Linked DNA regions of Homo sapiens: region 2 is linked to region 1. A link means that fine-mapping ties the variant in region 1 to the expression of a gene that starts in the linked region. Tissue or cell type: whole blood. Region 1 holds a variant in brackets; the other region holds the start of a gene. All regions are shown on one strand. Distances are from middle to middle.

The links. PIP is the estimated chance that this variant, and not a neighbour inherited with it, causes the effect.
Region 2: it holds the start of REG4, and the variant in region 1 is fine-mapped to the expression of REG4 in whole blood (TOPMed, PIP above 0.99).

Annotation. Positions count from the first base shown.
Region 1 is chr1:120,374,673-120,383,109 of GRCh38, reverse strand. No RefSeq gene overlaps it. Among named protein-coding and RNA genes, the nearest start is that of NBPF8, 36 kb to the left of the region's middle. The variant G/C (reference allele first, on the strand shown) is at 3,644.
Region 2 is chr1:119,808,137-119,816,335 of GRCh38, reverse strand. REG4 (regenerating family member 4) reads left to right here and starts at 4,876. Exons shown (of 6, transcript NM_032044.4): 1 at 4,876-4,927; 2 at 7,473-7,633. The coding sequence starts at 7,567.

The DNA of each region.
Region 1 (8,437 bases):
ATATTGCATACTGGTGGGGATTGGGCTTCTAGTTCACCCATTACCCAAATAATGAATATTGTACCTAATAGGTAGTTTTTCAACACTCACATCCTCTCCCCTTTGGGAAACCTCAGTGTCTATTATTTCCATCTTTATGTCCATGTGTACCAATTGTTTAGCTTCCACTTGTAGGTGAGAATATGCAGTATTTTATTTTCTGTTTCTGAGTTAATTCACTTAGAATAATGTTCTACACCTCCATCCATGTTGCTTCAAAGGACATGATTTCATTCTTTTTTATGGTGGTGTAGTATTACATGATGTGTATATATATCACATTTTCTTTATCCAATCAATTATTGATGGACCCATAGGTTAGACTTAGGTTGGTTCCGTGACTTTGCTATTGTCATGGTATTGTCCTATAATGATTTGTTTTCCTTTGGGTAGGTGTCCAGTTATGAATATTTCTGGGTCAAAGGGTAGTTCTGTTTTCAGTTCTTTGAGATATCTTCATACTGTTTTCCATAGAGCTTGAACTAATTTATATTCCCACCAATAGTGTATAAGCGTTCTCTCTTTGCTCTGCATCCAAGTCAACCTCTGTTTTTTTCTTTTTTCAACTTTTTAATAACAGCCATTCTGACTGATATAAGATGATATCTCATTGTGGTTTTAATGAGCATTTCTTTAATGATTAGTGATTCTGAGCATTTTTTCATGTGTTTGTTGGCTGCTTGCATTTTTTTTTTTTTTGAAAAATGTCTGTTCATGTCCTTTGCCCAGTTTTTAATGGGGTTGTTTCTTTTTCTCTTCTTGAATTCTTTGAGGTCCTTGTAGATTCTTGATATTAGTCCTTTGTCAGAGACATATTTTGCAATTCTGTTTTTTTTTTTTTCAAGCATGGCAAGAAAGATTTTATTCAGGACCAGAGCAATAGTTACAGGGACCACTGAAATGTTGTCTGACAGTGGGGAAGAGAGATTCTATGCTGGTCATTTTTAACAGCTTTCTTTTATTATTATTGTTATTATTATTATTATTATACTTTAAGTTCTAGGGTACATGTGCACAACGTGCAGATTTGTTACATATGTATACATGTGCCATGTTGTCGTGCTGCACCCATTAACTTGTCATTTACATTAGGTATATCTCCTAATGGTATCCCTCCCCCCTCCCCCTACCCAACGACAGCTCGTGGTGTGTGATGTTCCCCTTTCTGTGTCCAAGTGTTCTCATTGTTCAGTACCCACCTATGAGTAAGAACATGCCGTGTTTGGTTTTCTGTCCTTGCGATAGTTTGCTGAGAATGATGGTTTCCAGCTTCATCTATGTCCCTACAAAGGACATGAACTCATCCTTTTTTATGGCTGCATATTTGACAGCTTTCTTTTGCTGAGATTGTTTCAAGTGTGTTCTAGCTTTGGACGTTATGAGAAGAGTTGTTTTACAACATTTTTCTCTGATTATTTTTAAATCTAGGGTCTTTGTAGAACTGTTTCTTTCTCCACTATTTCTTCTAGTTCTCTGTAATGGTTATATGTATATATATATATGATACATATGTACTTATCTATCAGCTATATTCATCATATAGGTGATACATACATACGCTGTGAGTGCATTATTTTCCTTGGAATATTATTGTGGAGATTCTTTCAGGATGAGGAAGAACTGCACATTTGTTTCTATTAGGTATTGTGAACTGTTTTAAACTAAATTTATAGCTTGAGTTTTTGAGATTGTAATTTATGCAACAGCAGCATTTTCCCCATGCTTTGTTTAGCACCAACGAACACTTCCTTGCCGACACATGGAAGAAGGAGTGAGGTAGTGTGGGTTTACTTTTGGTTTATGCTTATTGTGAAATTATAGCTCTTTGGAGGTCTTGTTTCATAGGGGGAAAGTCTTCTATTATCACATGCATGTTGCTGGGGACTTGAGATTTTTTCCTTCTTCCATATCACTCCACAGAGACTGAAAAACTGAAGCTCAAATTCACTGCTTTCATGAATTCTCCAAGGGCCAAATGGAATTCAACATTTAGCTTTCTTTTCTGAGATCAAGACATCACTTAGATTTTGGTCTTGTAATTCCTTACCATCTTGTATGCTCTTTGTTGCTCCAAAATCTTCTTTTTCTTCTATCTTATGCAGAATTTCTAGTTGTTTTTATCAAGAATGTGGGTTTGAACAACTGAGCATATTATTTTATTGGAAAAGTGCAATTGCTTTTTACTACCGATTCCTAATTATCCAGAGGATCTAGAAAAAATGGATTTAACTCTTTGGCCAATTAAAACACAAATTCCAAAAATGGATTATCTGTTCTTATAAAGCTATAGTATATTAAAAGATATTTAATACATAAATAACAGTAAACAAAGTATCCTCTACTATGGTTTGAAAATTATTTAGAATCTTGCGATTGTCCTGGGTCTCTCTAGATGCTAATGATCACCAATGAGTTTGACAAATAGAGATGTTACAAGTGATTGGTTTAAATCTTTGATGCACCTTAAATGTATTTTAAAATGTGCCCCTAACTCTTTATTTTACCTGACTGTATTTCAGTGCATCAGTTTAAGGGTAGACATGAGATCATGGGTTTAAGTGAGGCTTCATCATACTAAGACAACGTGATCAGGTAAGTACTTGCCCCTCTACATGTCAGCATTCTCACCTGTAACATAGTACAAACAAGACTTTGTCTGAGTCCCTTGCAACATTTTGTGGAGCATCAAATACAATAAAGACCGTGGATATGCTTTGTAAACCTTGAGTTTCTACACATATGCAAATATAAGTACTGGTAAGATATAGAATGAACAAGGGAAATAGAATCCTATTTTTATGTTTCAATTTTATGGATTGCTGGAAAATTGAAGTGTATAGGAGTCTTCCTGTGTTGCTCACTAGAATGCCTTTGGCTGGGTTTACTGGTATTGCACGAAAACAGCTGTTAGCAAAGACAAGACTTAGGCACCCAACAAGACCTTTTATTTTCACATGACTGAGCCTCTGACTTCAATATGCGTTCCGTGTTTTTCCCAGAAGTTCTTTTGTGTTATGTACAATTACTCTGCTGAACAGATTGTATTTGTTTTTTTCTTTGTTTTTTTTTGTTTTTTTGTTTTGTTTTGTTTTGTTTTACTGTGAGACAGTGATGCCAATGCTTGTGTATTTAGGATGGGGGTCGCAGACTCTGTACTTCCAGGAGAAGCCCCCGGAAGGTCTTAGCTGGCTCCTGAGGGGGCACATTTGCTGTGCTCATTGCACTTTACCTGGTGTCATGAAGCATAAAGAGCACAAACGTGGACACCAAGAGTCTACATTAAAGTCCCACTCCTTTATGTTTGTAAATATGGGATATTGGGAAGTTGCTGCACCTTTTTTGCTCATTTTCTTCACTGAACAGCAGAAATAGAAAAATTTCTTCTTAATAGGGCTTAAGGGAGACTCAAATACAACACTGTATATGATGTTCTTTTGCAAATTGTAAAGCAAAGTACAAAGTTTCAAATATATTCATTATACGTATATATCTAGCTTTTTATTCCATTTGGTTCAAAAAATTTATGTGTTCCAAAAAATTATGGAGGTGATACATATCTAAGTAGAGGATTTGTCAGATATAAATATCATGATGTACTAACAAG[G/C]CTGGACAGCTTTTATTAACACATTGTCTGCAGCACAAAAAAACAATGCCTGGGCCTGAATAGGAACCATAAGAAAATATTTCTTAAATCAATGAAAGATTATTTAATAATTAAGAAAAACTGGCCAGGCGTGGTGGCTCATGCCTGTAGTCCCAGCACTTTGGGAGGCCGAGGCGGGCGGATCACGAGGTCAGCAGATTGAGACCATCCTGGCTAACACGGTGAAACCCCATCTCTACTAAAAATATAAATATTAAAAAAAAAAAACTAGTCAGGCGTGGTGGCGGGCGCCTGTAGTCCCAGCTACTCGGGACGCTCAGGCAGGAGAATGGCGTGAACCCGAGAGGCGGAGCTTGCAGTGAGCCGAGATCGCGCCACTGCACTCCAGCCTGGGCGATAGAGTGAGACTCCGTCGCAAAAAAAAAAAAAAAAGGCGAAGACAAGGGTGAGTTTAGAAGGTGAAATCTGTGCTGTATATACTGAGAAATTGCTTGGGATGACTCATTTGATTCTGAATATCTGCATTAGCCAGTGCAGGCTGGCGTAACTAAATGCCACAGACTGGATGGCATAAGCAGCAGAATTTCATTCTCTTACAGTTTTGGGGGCAGTGAAGTCCAAGATCATGAAGCTGGAAGGGTTTGGCGTCTGTTGGGGCCTCTTACCGGCTTGGGCTGCTTTTTCCTTATGTGACCTTTATACATGTGAGGTCGAGGGGAGAGACATCTGTCTCTTTCTTTCAGTATAAAGCCACCAGTCCTAGTAGACTGAGGTCCCACCCGTATGACCTAATTTGACCTTAAGTGCCTACTAAAGGCCCTGCCTGTCTTCAAAAACAGTCACATCAGGGATCAGAACTTTTATACATAAGATTTTTGCAGGGACACAATTCAATCCAAAGCAATATCTTATCAAGATAACGATATGTTTGGCTACGTCTCCACCCAAATCTCATCTTGAGCTGTAGTTCCCATAATCCCCACCTGACATGGGAGGGACCTGGTGGAAGGTGATTTTATCATGGGAGCAGTTACCTCCATGCTGTTCTCCTGATAGTAAGTGAGTTTTCATGAGATCTGATGGTTTTATAAGGGGCTTTTCCCTCCTTTTTCCCACCTCTCTTTGCTGCCGCCATGTGAAGAAGGACATATTTGCTTCCCCTTCTACCATGATTGTAAGTGTCCTGAGGCCTCCACAGCCATGCCGAACTGTGAGTCAATTCAACCTTTTTCCTTTATAAATGTCCCAGTCTTGGGTATGTCTTTATTAGCAGCTTGAGAAGAGACAAATACGGATAATATGATTGGTTAGACAATTTGAGAATCTTTATAATATTTTTCAAAAGAAACATAAATATTGTAATTTTTGTCAATAACTGTTTGGTGAGCAAGGAAGTTAATTTCTTTGAATGTGTTTTTGTACTTGTGAAATAGGGATTATAATTCGTGCATTGACTTAATGTTATTATAACAGTCAAAGAATGTATTGTGCACTAGTCCTTGCAAACCCAAGCAAAGCCCTTGGGTTACACATGTGAGCTGTCATCATTCAGTATTCCCCTTGCCATGGGAGGGGAAAGAAGCATGTATGATCTGCACTGCGATGCACACATGGGCCCCCTGGAGATGTGGAGCAGGTGATGGATCTTCAGTCTCCATTAGAACCTTATTATTGGACATTTAGAAAAAGGCAGAAAAAGTTAGCAGCTCCAGAACTGCTGGATCGTGATTGTGCTTCTGTTTTGTAAATATCTCCATTGACTTCAAGTTACTGCCCACTCGGACCTACGATTCCAATCCCCCTCCCCATTCACCTACAGAATAATGAGACTGTGATTTAAACTAGAAAGCCAGTAGCTTTTCTTCTTTATTTTCTTTGAGTGATAGCCACAAAGGGGAGAGTTTAAGAAATAAGTCGTTGCTTGCATAAAGACTGCAGAGAAAAACCTTCATTTGTTTATTTTTTTCCTTTCTTCTATTTTCTATTCTAAAGCTGCATGTGGTCTCCTCCTAAAAGGAGTTTACTGGTAGCATGTTAAACATGTCTAAGACATTTCTGAATATTTGAATATAAATTATTTACATAACTTGTTAATTTATTTGCTTATGTAAAAGATATGGTGGGTCAATTGGGTAAATAGCTAGCACACTGCAGACTACCTTGGCCTTTTTTTCTACCTGAATGCCTTGTGGCAATGAAAGAGTTGTGAAAAGGAGCAAAGAAGAAAAAGCAATTTATAGTCAAATTTTGAGAATTTTTAAAAGAGGAGGAAGAGGAAAACAATTTGACAGAGAGAGGAGGAAGGGAGGAAAGTAAGAAGAAAATAAAGGATCATATGTTAAAATCAGAAAGAAATATACAAAAACCTAAAGATGACATTGGAATCAATGAAAGCAAATATACTAGGGTCAGATTTTTGCCTCTCATCTCTAATCTAACACAGTCTATGTCAAATAGTTACAGCATCATAACTTCTGTCCCCTTTATTCAGAATTAGCAAAGTCTGAACTGACTTACCTGAACAGGAAGAACTAGTTGAGTAATTTCTTTTAGTAGCATGGTAGTGGAAAATTTTAGAATCATATAAACTTAGGTTGAAAATTCTGCTCCTTTACTCTCCCGCCCTGTGACTTCAGGTAAGCTTGTTGATCTTTCCAACTTCAGTTTCTTCTTCTGTAAAATAGAGATAGTAGGACCTGCCTTATATATTAAATATACATATAAACCATAGAGATGCCTCTGAAATTAGCATAAGCTCCTTTGGAAATTGAAAATGGCAATGTTTGGGATAACTTTCACCGTTTATGTGTTTGCTGAAGGTAAAAATATCAGTTAAAAATATCTTTCACTGAAACAAGAGGAAATTTACTCTTAAGTAGGAATACTTTACGCATCGAGCAGAGATAAAGAGAATTTACATGTGTCTCTAGGTTCCTTGGCTTCCAATAGTATCTTTATTTGTGCAAGTTTTGTGTTTTGTAAAAGCTAGAAGGTCAATAATCAAAATGGCATTTGATTGCTTATTCATTATTTGGTGGTGCAAACATGTAGAACATTTTCTGTTTCTATTTCTGGCAAACGGAAGGGATGGTAAAACTAGACGCAATATTGGATGAACATTAGCGGCCCAGGACTGGCCTCAGTCATTGAAACTTTGATTAAGAACTCTGGGTATGATGGATAATTTTTGTGTCAAATTCACTTAGACATGAGGTGCCCAGACTAAACATGGGTCCTGGTTATGGCTGTGAGGCTGTTTCTGTATGAGATTAGCGTTTGAATCAGCAGACTGAGTAAAGCAGGTGGCCCTCCACCATGTGAATGGGCATTATCCGATTCATTGAGACCCGAATAGAACAGAAAGCACAGGAAGGGTGACTTCACCCTCTGCCTAACTGCTTGAGCTGACACATCAGCCCCCTGTGCTGTTCTTGACTGGGTCTTATACCATCGATACTTTGGTTCTCTCAACTACATCACTGCCTTTCCTGGGTCTCCAGCTGCAGATGGCAGATTGTGAGACTTTCAGCCCCCATAATCACATGAGCCAATTTCTTATAATAAACTCCCTCTCTCTCCTTCTTTCCCTCTCTCTCTGTCTATATATATATATATACACACACACACACGTATTAAATATATATGTGTATATATATACACACACACACACACATGCGCGCACACGCACACACATACTCTTGATTCTGTTTCTATAAAGAACCCTGATTAATACAAAGGGCAATTTCAAGGATTTGATTATATATATAAAATATTAAATCACTTATACATATAACATTGTGTGTGTGTGTGTGTCTCCTTTTACTGAGTTACCTCCTGATTTTTATGACTTTAGGATGAGAACCAGGGCTATTTTTCTAATAACACAGATACCTTTCCTGAGAAAAATCATCCTAGCCATCCACAATGGCAAAGATCACATATGTGTATGCATGTTCATGTGGTCACATATGTGTGCATGCATGTATACATGTCTGCATGACCACATGTGTGTATGCATGTGTATTAGTCAGGGTTCTCTAGAGGGACAGAACTGATAGAATAGATGTACATATAAAAGGGGGTTTATTAAAGAGAATCAACTCACATGATTACAAGATAAATTCCCATGATAGGCCATCTGCACGTTGAGGAGCAAGGAAGCCAGTGGTGCATCAGTCTGAGTCCCAAAACCTCGAAAGTTGGGAAGTAAACAATGCAGTCTTCAGTCTGTGGCCAAAGGCCCGAGAGCCCCTGAAAAATCACTGGTGTAAGTCCAAGAGTCTAAAAGCTGAAGAATTTGGAGTCTGATGTTCGAGACCAGGATGCTTCCAGCACAGGAGAAAGATGAAAGCCAGAAGACTCAGCAAGTCTGTTCTTCCATCTTCTTCTGCCTGCTTTATTCTAGCTGTGCTGACAGCTGATTAGATGGTGCCCACCCAGATAGAAGGAGGGTCTGCCTCTCCCAATCCACTGACTTAAATGTTAATCTCCTTTGGCAACACCCTCACAGATATGCCCAGGAACAATACTTTGCATCCTTCAATCCAATCAGGTTGACACTCAACATCAGCTATCACAGCATATATGTATATATGTTTGTTTAAAAACACAGCAAGATATAGGAATAAGCTTTGTACACTAGGACTATTTGCAAAGTTATTGTGTGAATATAAATAACTAATATATATCTTAAAATTTTCTGTAGAGGTAGTTGTATACACAGGCTGTAAAAGTCAGCATTTTTCCTCATATTATTCCAGAACACATAAAAAAGCAACAAGGAAAATGGAGAAA
Region 2 (8,199 bases), 570 kb after region 1:
CCCCAAAATACACCTTCTTTGACCTCTTTCTAACGCCATTTCAATCTATATTTTCCACACTGCTGCCCATCTGGCTGGGGTTCTTCTTTCGACCCTTTCAAAAAACTTCTGACAGTTATCAACTACTAGTAAAACAGAAACTGTTCATTAGTTAAAATGGGTCCTAAGTGAGTAGCTGTCAGACTGAAACTATAGGCAATTTACCCTCGACCTCAAATGAAGAAATACTGAGAAGCTCCACTATTCGACTCAGGATGAAGTTCATCAGTCATTTGAAGAGGAAGGGAAAGGAATCGCATCCAAGCTTCAACTAGGGAAAGAAGAGAACGAAAAATGTGCTGCAGATGTGACAAAAGAACACCAGACTCAGTCTATCACATCGCAGAGAAGGACAAAGATTTCTTTCTAAAATGTACCCTAGGTGTCAGCTGAGACACTCCTGCTTGGTGACCTAATTACATTTGGCTCAAATGCAAGTTCTATAGCTTTCCCCCAAACTCCCCACAATTCCTTCAGTACTCAGAACTTACTTCCACGAGTTTCCCTCTGTCTCTAAGCTTCCCTGCAAACAGGAACGATTCATCTTTTCTTCCACATCAACTTGTTTCCACAAAAATATTCGCCCCCATCTTCTTGGTTTGTGCTGTACAATATGGTAGCCACTAGCCACACATAGCTGTTTAAACTTAAGTTTAACTAATTGGAATTAAATGAAGCTCACAATTCAATTCCACATTCTTAGTCATCGTATTTTGAGTGCTTGATAGCCATATGTGGCTAGTGACTACCTCACTGAAACCACAGATTAGAATACATCCATTATCTTAGGGAATTCTGTTAGACAGCTGTACCAGCATGTCACAAACTGATGAGAGCTTACTGAATATCTGTGGACTTATGGAGAGAGATCACATTTTAATTTTTTATCAGAATATTCACTTTTATCTAAGCATGTTTAATCACATGCCACTTTTGAGAAATGTACTATCTACCTATAGGGATGTACTAATGCACAGGTTTCCATTTGGAGTCTTTTAGGAAGCCAAGTTAAATCACCACATAGATGAAGTTTAATTGTTTCAAGTGGGCTTAGAGCATGAATTCTTCCAAGAGAGGAAATAAGGCTTTTCTCCCTGACAAAGAAGTGAATGTCTTCTCCAAAAATATGTTCAGTGAAGTTTTCCTGGGCTGGGTGCAGTGGTTCATGCCTGTAATCCCAGCACTTTGGGAAGCCCAGGCGGGTGGATCGCCTGAGGTCAGGAGTTCCATACCAGCCTGACCAATATGGTGAAACCCCATCTTTGCTAAAAGTACAAAAATTAGCTGGGCTTGGTGATGGGCACCTATAATCCCAGTCATTTGGGATGCTGAGGCAGGAGAATCACTTGAACCTGGGAGATGGAGGCTGCATAGAGCTGAGATCACACCACTGTACTCCAGCCTGGGCAACAGAGCCAGACTCATCTCAAAAGAGAAAAAAAAAAAGTGAAGTTTTCCTCTGTGGGAAAAAGAAAGATATGAGTGAGCTTGCTTGTTCCCTAGAACCTCTAGATGGAAATACCTAAGAAGAAAAGAGGCAGATTTTGAAGCAATTACTCTTCTTTGGATTGCTGGTTAGTTTCGCTACTAAAAATTGCTGAACATAAGGTGAGAGAGAGGAAGGAGATGTGATCCCTGACCTGAAGTAGCTTAGTGAAATATAGGTAGCCAACCAGAAAATAGAGACTTTAAGTGCCGAGCCTGGGGTATGTGAGCACAATGGAAGGCATCTCTGCTGTCAGAGAGTAGAATAAGGAAAAGCCTCCAAAGCAATGCTGTAAACCAAACCAAGCTGTCATTGTGGCAAGATCCTGCAGGACAGAAACCAGATGGCTGTTCTTCAACTTTTTATCACCTCCTGTCCCCTTCCCTACCACACCTACACCCATATACCCAGATTCTTGCACTTAATCACATTCAATATTTATTGAATGAACTAATTAAAAGATGAATAAACACACCCAAACAAGGAATGAGAAAAAGGGCATTGCAAGCAGAGGAATGACATGAAAAAAGGCATGGAGGTGTGACCTTGAATGGGGTTGTTCCAGGGAGTACCAACATGTGGTGTTGATGGGCACAGATTTGACTGGATGGAGTATTAGTGCTGGAGGCAAGAGTGATATGAAGGTGTACGACTCAGAAAGATTTTCCTGCTATACTGAAAGTCTTGGTGAATGTGGGGCTCAATTGTAATATTTCATCATAAGTGCAGCAACATCAAGTTTGCATTATCAAAAAAGTACTCTGATAATACATATACTTAAATTAATATTTTCTAATGAAGTCTCAATTTAATCATGATCAGATCTTAGAATATTTTAACTTCATTCCTAACTCTCTTTAATCTCGTTTGTTATTGTCTGGTATTTTTGTTCCTACTTATATTAAAAATGAAATAAAGTTACTATTAATTTTATTTTAAACATTATTATAACTAATACAGTCAACACATTTCTTTATTGTAACACATCTTCTGGGATTATTTTATTTTTTGACAAAGGACACGCTTAAGCAGTAATTTCAATGAGTCTATGGATAGCAATCTTACTACGTTCTCATAACTTTAACATATCTTTTTGTCATACTCACCCTTAATGGTTGGTTAGCTGGGTACAGAATTCCAGGTTGAAAGTTGTTTTCCTTTGCACTTTAAAGCTAGTGTTCCATACTACCGAGCCATAAAAAGGAATGAAATAATGGCATTCACAGCAACCTGGATGGAATTGGAGACTATTATTCTAAGTGAAGTAACTCAGGAATGGAAAACCAAACACTGATGTTTTCAGTCATATGTGGGAGTTATGAGGATGCAAAGGCACAAGAACGATCCACTGGACTTTGGGGACTCGGGCGAAAGGGTGGGGGGTGGCAGGAGATAAAAGGCTACACGTTGGGTATAGTATACACCGCTTGGATGATGGGTGCCCCAAAATCTCAGAAATCACCGCTAAAGAACTTATCATGTAACCAAACACCACCTGTTCCCCAAAAACCTATTGAAATTAAAAATAATAAATAAATAAATAAAGCTACTATTCGAAAGCTGCCTGGCTTCCACTTTATCTCTCCATTATGGTGCCATCCCCATCCTTGTCACTTTGAAGGTGATCATTGCTGATTTGGGGCTTTTAGGATTCTCACTTTGACCATTTCATGTATGAGGTGTTTATATGTAGACTTTTTTTTTTTAAATAAACTTACTATTCAGTGGACCTTTTTGATTCAGACAATTTTCTGGTCCTTTACATTCTTACATCTCAAAGGTTTATGTGAGTCCTATCAATGCCTTAATTTGGAGCTAGTCAATGTGAGGGTTCAGTAAGAGACCTCTTAAAAGTCCTATGAACATCTTGTTTTCTAATCTGTTCTACTCTCTTCTCTCTCATCTCAAGTCTTTAAATCTGGATAATGGCATGGGGATAGCAGACTAAGGGTTGGGATGGCTGCTGGAAACACAGGAGATCTATCTAATCACCCATTTTGTTAAAACTTTTCTGTCTTACATCTGGACCAGGACTTCTGAAATTGAAAGGCTTGGAGTTAACATCTTTGTACGCCATTGTGCCATGAAGCAATGATGATTCCCATCCAGCTGCCTAAAGAGAAAGAGGTTTGTGTCAAACATTCTGATGGGAGAGATTCTTTAAAATGTTCTTTGTGAACCATGAAAGCATTACTTTCTCATGTCCTACCATGAATTTACACAACTGATGCAAAAATCTAATAACAAAGGTTGAGTAGCATTTTCCAAACAACAGTGAGCTGGGAGCAAGGAAGCTGGCTTCTGATATCAGCTTCACCCACAACTGTCTGTGCATTAAACTAGTCACAATGTTTCTCTAGGCCTCAATTTCCTCACCAGTAGAACAAAAGAGTAAGATTTGATAACTACTATGGTCCCTTCCAGACTTAAAGTTTCCAGACATAAAGGTCCTTTACAGACTTAAATCTGTAGTTTAAAGTTGAGTCATCTCTGGCACCTACAACCTAACCCTTTGCCATCTATACTGGAAAAGAAAATCTTGTTACTCTTTTCAAATAGCCTATTTTTCAGTAGAACTGTATTTTGGCAAACACCTATATTTGGAGTCAGAAGGACAAGGTTCAGTGTCCAGGTCCACTGCTGACCAGTGTTGTGAACCTCGGAAGGTTTCTAATCTCTCTTAAGGTTGGGTTTCTTGAGTGTGTAATGGGGATATGTGTCCTATGCTGCTCACAAGGATTTTGTTGGCATCTTATTTGATGACTTCACTGAAAACCCGTTATTGTAACACACTCTGTTGATGTAAGCTATTTTGACATGATCATCCATGTTCTGCGGGAGAAGCTCAAATAGTAGATCTCTGAGGAAACTCACGCATGTTGAAGGAGTGGAGTCGGTGCTTTAGGAAGGAAAATCTGTGTGTGGGTCTCAAGTCTCACCGCATGGGTCATAACCTATTCCTGACCCTGACAGAAAATCCTTCTAGAAATAAAAGAGAAATAAAGGAAATCCACCATACCAAGGCATAAAAAGACAGCCATGAAAAAGTAACATAAGGGGAGAGGAAGATGGGCTTATAACAGATTACAGGATGTTGTCAGTTTTAATAACGTGATGTGAAGAAAAGATTCTGTTTGCACACAGGGAGAGGTTCTTTTCCTGGCTAGTCAAAGCACACCTTACGTACATTCTGAAGCCGTCTCTTATATGATTCATTTTTTTCACTGTAGATAAGACTTTTATGGATGGATTGTTTTTCTCAAATAATATTATCGCTTTGTGACTAAAGTAAAGATTATTAATTCCTGAGGCAAGAAGATATAAAAGCTCCAGAAACGTTGACTGGGACCACTGGAGACACTGAAGAAGGCAGGGGCCCTTAGAGTCTTGGTTGCCAAACAGGTAATCCTCCTCGCGGTTGATGATGGGGGACTTTCTTTAAACATCTGTTTTCCTCTGTCAGCTATTAGCCAGGCCAGAAATGACAAATTGTATTTCTAGTGAGGCTTGTCAGGCTTTCTGTTGCTGTGTTGTTTGATTTAAATTATTTACCTTCTTTTCTTCCTTCACTGCAAAGAGCATTGGCTTTGGTGTCAAGCTGTTGGGTTAAATCTTGGCTCTGCAGTCTGGTAGCTGGGAAACTTTAGAAAAGTTACTCAATCATAAGTGTCAGTGTCTTCATTTGTAACATGCATTCATGAGATCTACAGTGCAGGTTTTTTGTTTTTGTTTCTGTTTTTGTTTTTGTTTTTGTTTTTTTATGGAGTCTTGCTCTGTCTCCCAGGCTGGAGAGCAATGGTGCAATCTTGGCTCACTGCAACTTCTGCCTCCCAGGTTCAAGTGATTCTCCTGCCTCAGCCTCCTGAGTAGCTGTGATTACAGGCACTTGCCACCACGCCCAGCTAATTTTTGTATTTTTTAATAGAGACAGGGTTGTGCCATGTTGGCCAGGCTGGTCTTGAACTCCTGACCTCAGGTGATCCACCTGCCTCAGCCTCTCAAAGTGCTGGGATTTCAGCCATGAGCCACCACACCCGGCCCAGTGCAGCTTACTTATGAACATGACATGCAGACATTCAATGAATATCAGTTCACTAAAAATTATTCACAGATTAGTAAAAAAGATGCTGCCTCTCCCTTCCCCCAGATGGTCACCTTGACAGAGAAATTCTGTTTGCGTTTTAAAGGGGTTTGAGGACATTGAAAATACACTATTACTTTTGGAAGGAAAGTTTAGCAAAGTGCAAGGTTCACGCAATGATTTAAAAAGAAGTAAGGGGTGGGGAAGGTCACATCCACACTCTCCAAGCTTTGTCTCATTCTCAGTTAATGTTGCCTTAAAGTGTTCAGATGGACCCCAGAATTGATTTTCCAGAAAAGTCATCATTTACATTATTCTCTTTAAGCAATCCATTATTTGAGAGTTAGATTGTATATTCAGATTTTTTAATCATAAAGTATGATTAAATGTGAATTCAATGAATTAACTCATTTTAAGAATTATTTGGGAGGGAAATCCAGAACTCAGTTTCATACTTATGTTAAAACAAAGCCCAGACAGATGAAAATAGAACAGTGATAAATATTTTAACCTTATGTGACAGTAATGGCCAGTCTTTTGATATAAATTTAAAAATTATTTTTAAAAACATAAAAAATAACAATATTTTTGAAAATTTCAGAATGGCAAAAATTATAATAAGTAAGAGAAAAATACAAACTGAGAAATACTATTAGTAACACGTGAAAGGCAATAAACATACAAAAAAGATCTCACAAATAAACATACAAAAAAGATCTCACAAACAATGAAATAGAAAAATGTGCAAAACTGTAAAATGAAAATTCACCAAATACTAAAAGCAAATCATTATATAAAAAGATGTTCAACTTCATTAGTAATTATAAAATATTTTAAAACACTAAGGTTCTTCTTTAATATACCAAAATTAGCCAAAAACTTGACAAAATTAAGCATTCTCTGGGAGCTTAGGGAACCAATCCTTTTAGTGCCCTATTAATGAGGTAAATATCACAGCCCATACATTTTAACAAAGGGTATTAAAATGACAATGTGCATGTTGTGTGATGCCACAACCCTATATATGAGAATTTATACTAAAGAAAAAATAAAAAATGCATGAAAGTTATGTGAGTGCAAGACAATGTATTACAATTAATCTGTTTCTGAGAAACAAAACCAGGCTATAGGACTATATGATCTTATTTTTATAAAATTGTACACAGAGAGAGGTGCATAGAAAGATATCTGTAGGCTACTCACCAAATTATCTCCTGGAGATGGGATTTACTTCTTATTTTCTAGTTTTGCATTGATTTTCTAATAGCTCATGTGTTGTTTGCTAATGGGGAAAAGATAAAGCCATGTTCTTTATTTTTAAAAATGATGTCAACTAAGTGTAAAGGAAAGAGTGCTGATGGAGTCAGATCTGCTTATAGCTGGTGTCCATGAACAAATGACTTCATACTTACTGACCTCAGGTTTTCTCATCTGTAAAATGTGGGTATTGGACACTGTGCTCACGTTTAATTTTAACATTTAAAAATTCAATGTCGGAGCCATTCTATTGGATTTTCTTGACAACAGAATGCCCATATCCGTCTTACCTGTGAGGAAGCTTGCCTTGGGCGCCCTCTGCTGGCCCTCCTGAAGCTAACAGGGGCGAGTGCTCGGTGGTTTACAAATTGCCTCCATGCAGACTATGAAACTGTTCAGCCTGCTATAGTTAGATCTCTGGCACTGGCCCAGGAGGTCTTGCAGGTAAGAACAAAATCTCTTAAAATTTTCTAACCTGTACATCTAACTTGAGATTCCCTTCATTATAAAGTCTGGATTTAGCCAGGAAAATATTGTATTATTTTCCTCCATATGTATTAGTTGGCATCTAGATTCCTGGGTCCTTCTCACCTGTGCAAATGTGTTCAGATTTGCAGATCAAGGAGAACCCAGGAGTTTCAAAGAAGCGCTAGTAAGGTCTCTGAGATCCTTGCACTAGCTACATCCTCAGGGTAGGAGGAAGATGGCTTCCAGAAGCATGCGGCTGCTCCTATTGCTGAGCTGCCTGGCCAAAACAGGAGTCCTGGGTGGTGAGTATCCATCACGTAGCTGGAACTGAGCCACAGCCAGTGTTCACACAGCCCATGTGAGACAGTCATCCATTTGCCCACAAAAACATTTAGGAACTGCAGGAAATAGGTTTTTAAACATGGAGATGAAAAACAAAGATAGGTACTAAAAAATTCAAGGGCTCTAGAATCCAACAAAACTCAATTCCATATGATTATAACCCATACTTAAATCATCAGTTAAGGGTAAGTTATAATATTAATTTGGCAAGTTTATTGTGAAGGGCAGAGATAATGTGTTTGAAACACCTGTTGCCTAGCAGATTGTCAATAAGTCATAGCCATAATTAGAATTCCCCAATGCTTATGCACTGGTTTATCATTTTGAGCATTATTAGGGATTCCAGTTTGCAAGGTACCTACAATCTAGTTAGAGAGATGGCGCTTATACATTTATAGATCACACATCAAGTGCAAAGTAACATGGCAACAAAGTGGGTAGCAATATTGTAGAATCCACCAATAGAGAAAGCAGGGGAGGAACAGTGTACGAGTGAGCTAAGAAGAAATGTCACAGAATACCAGAA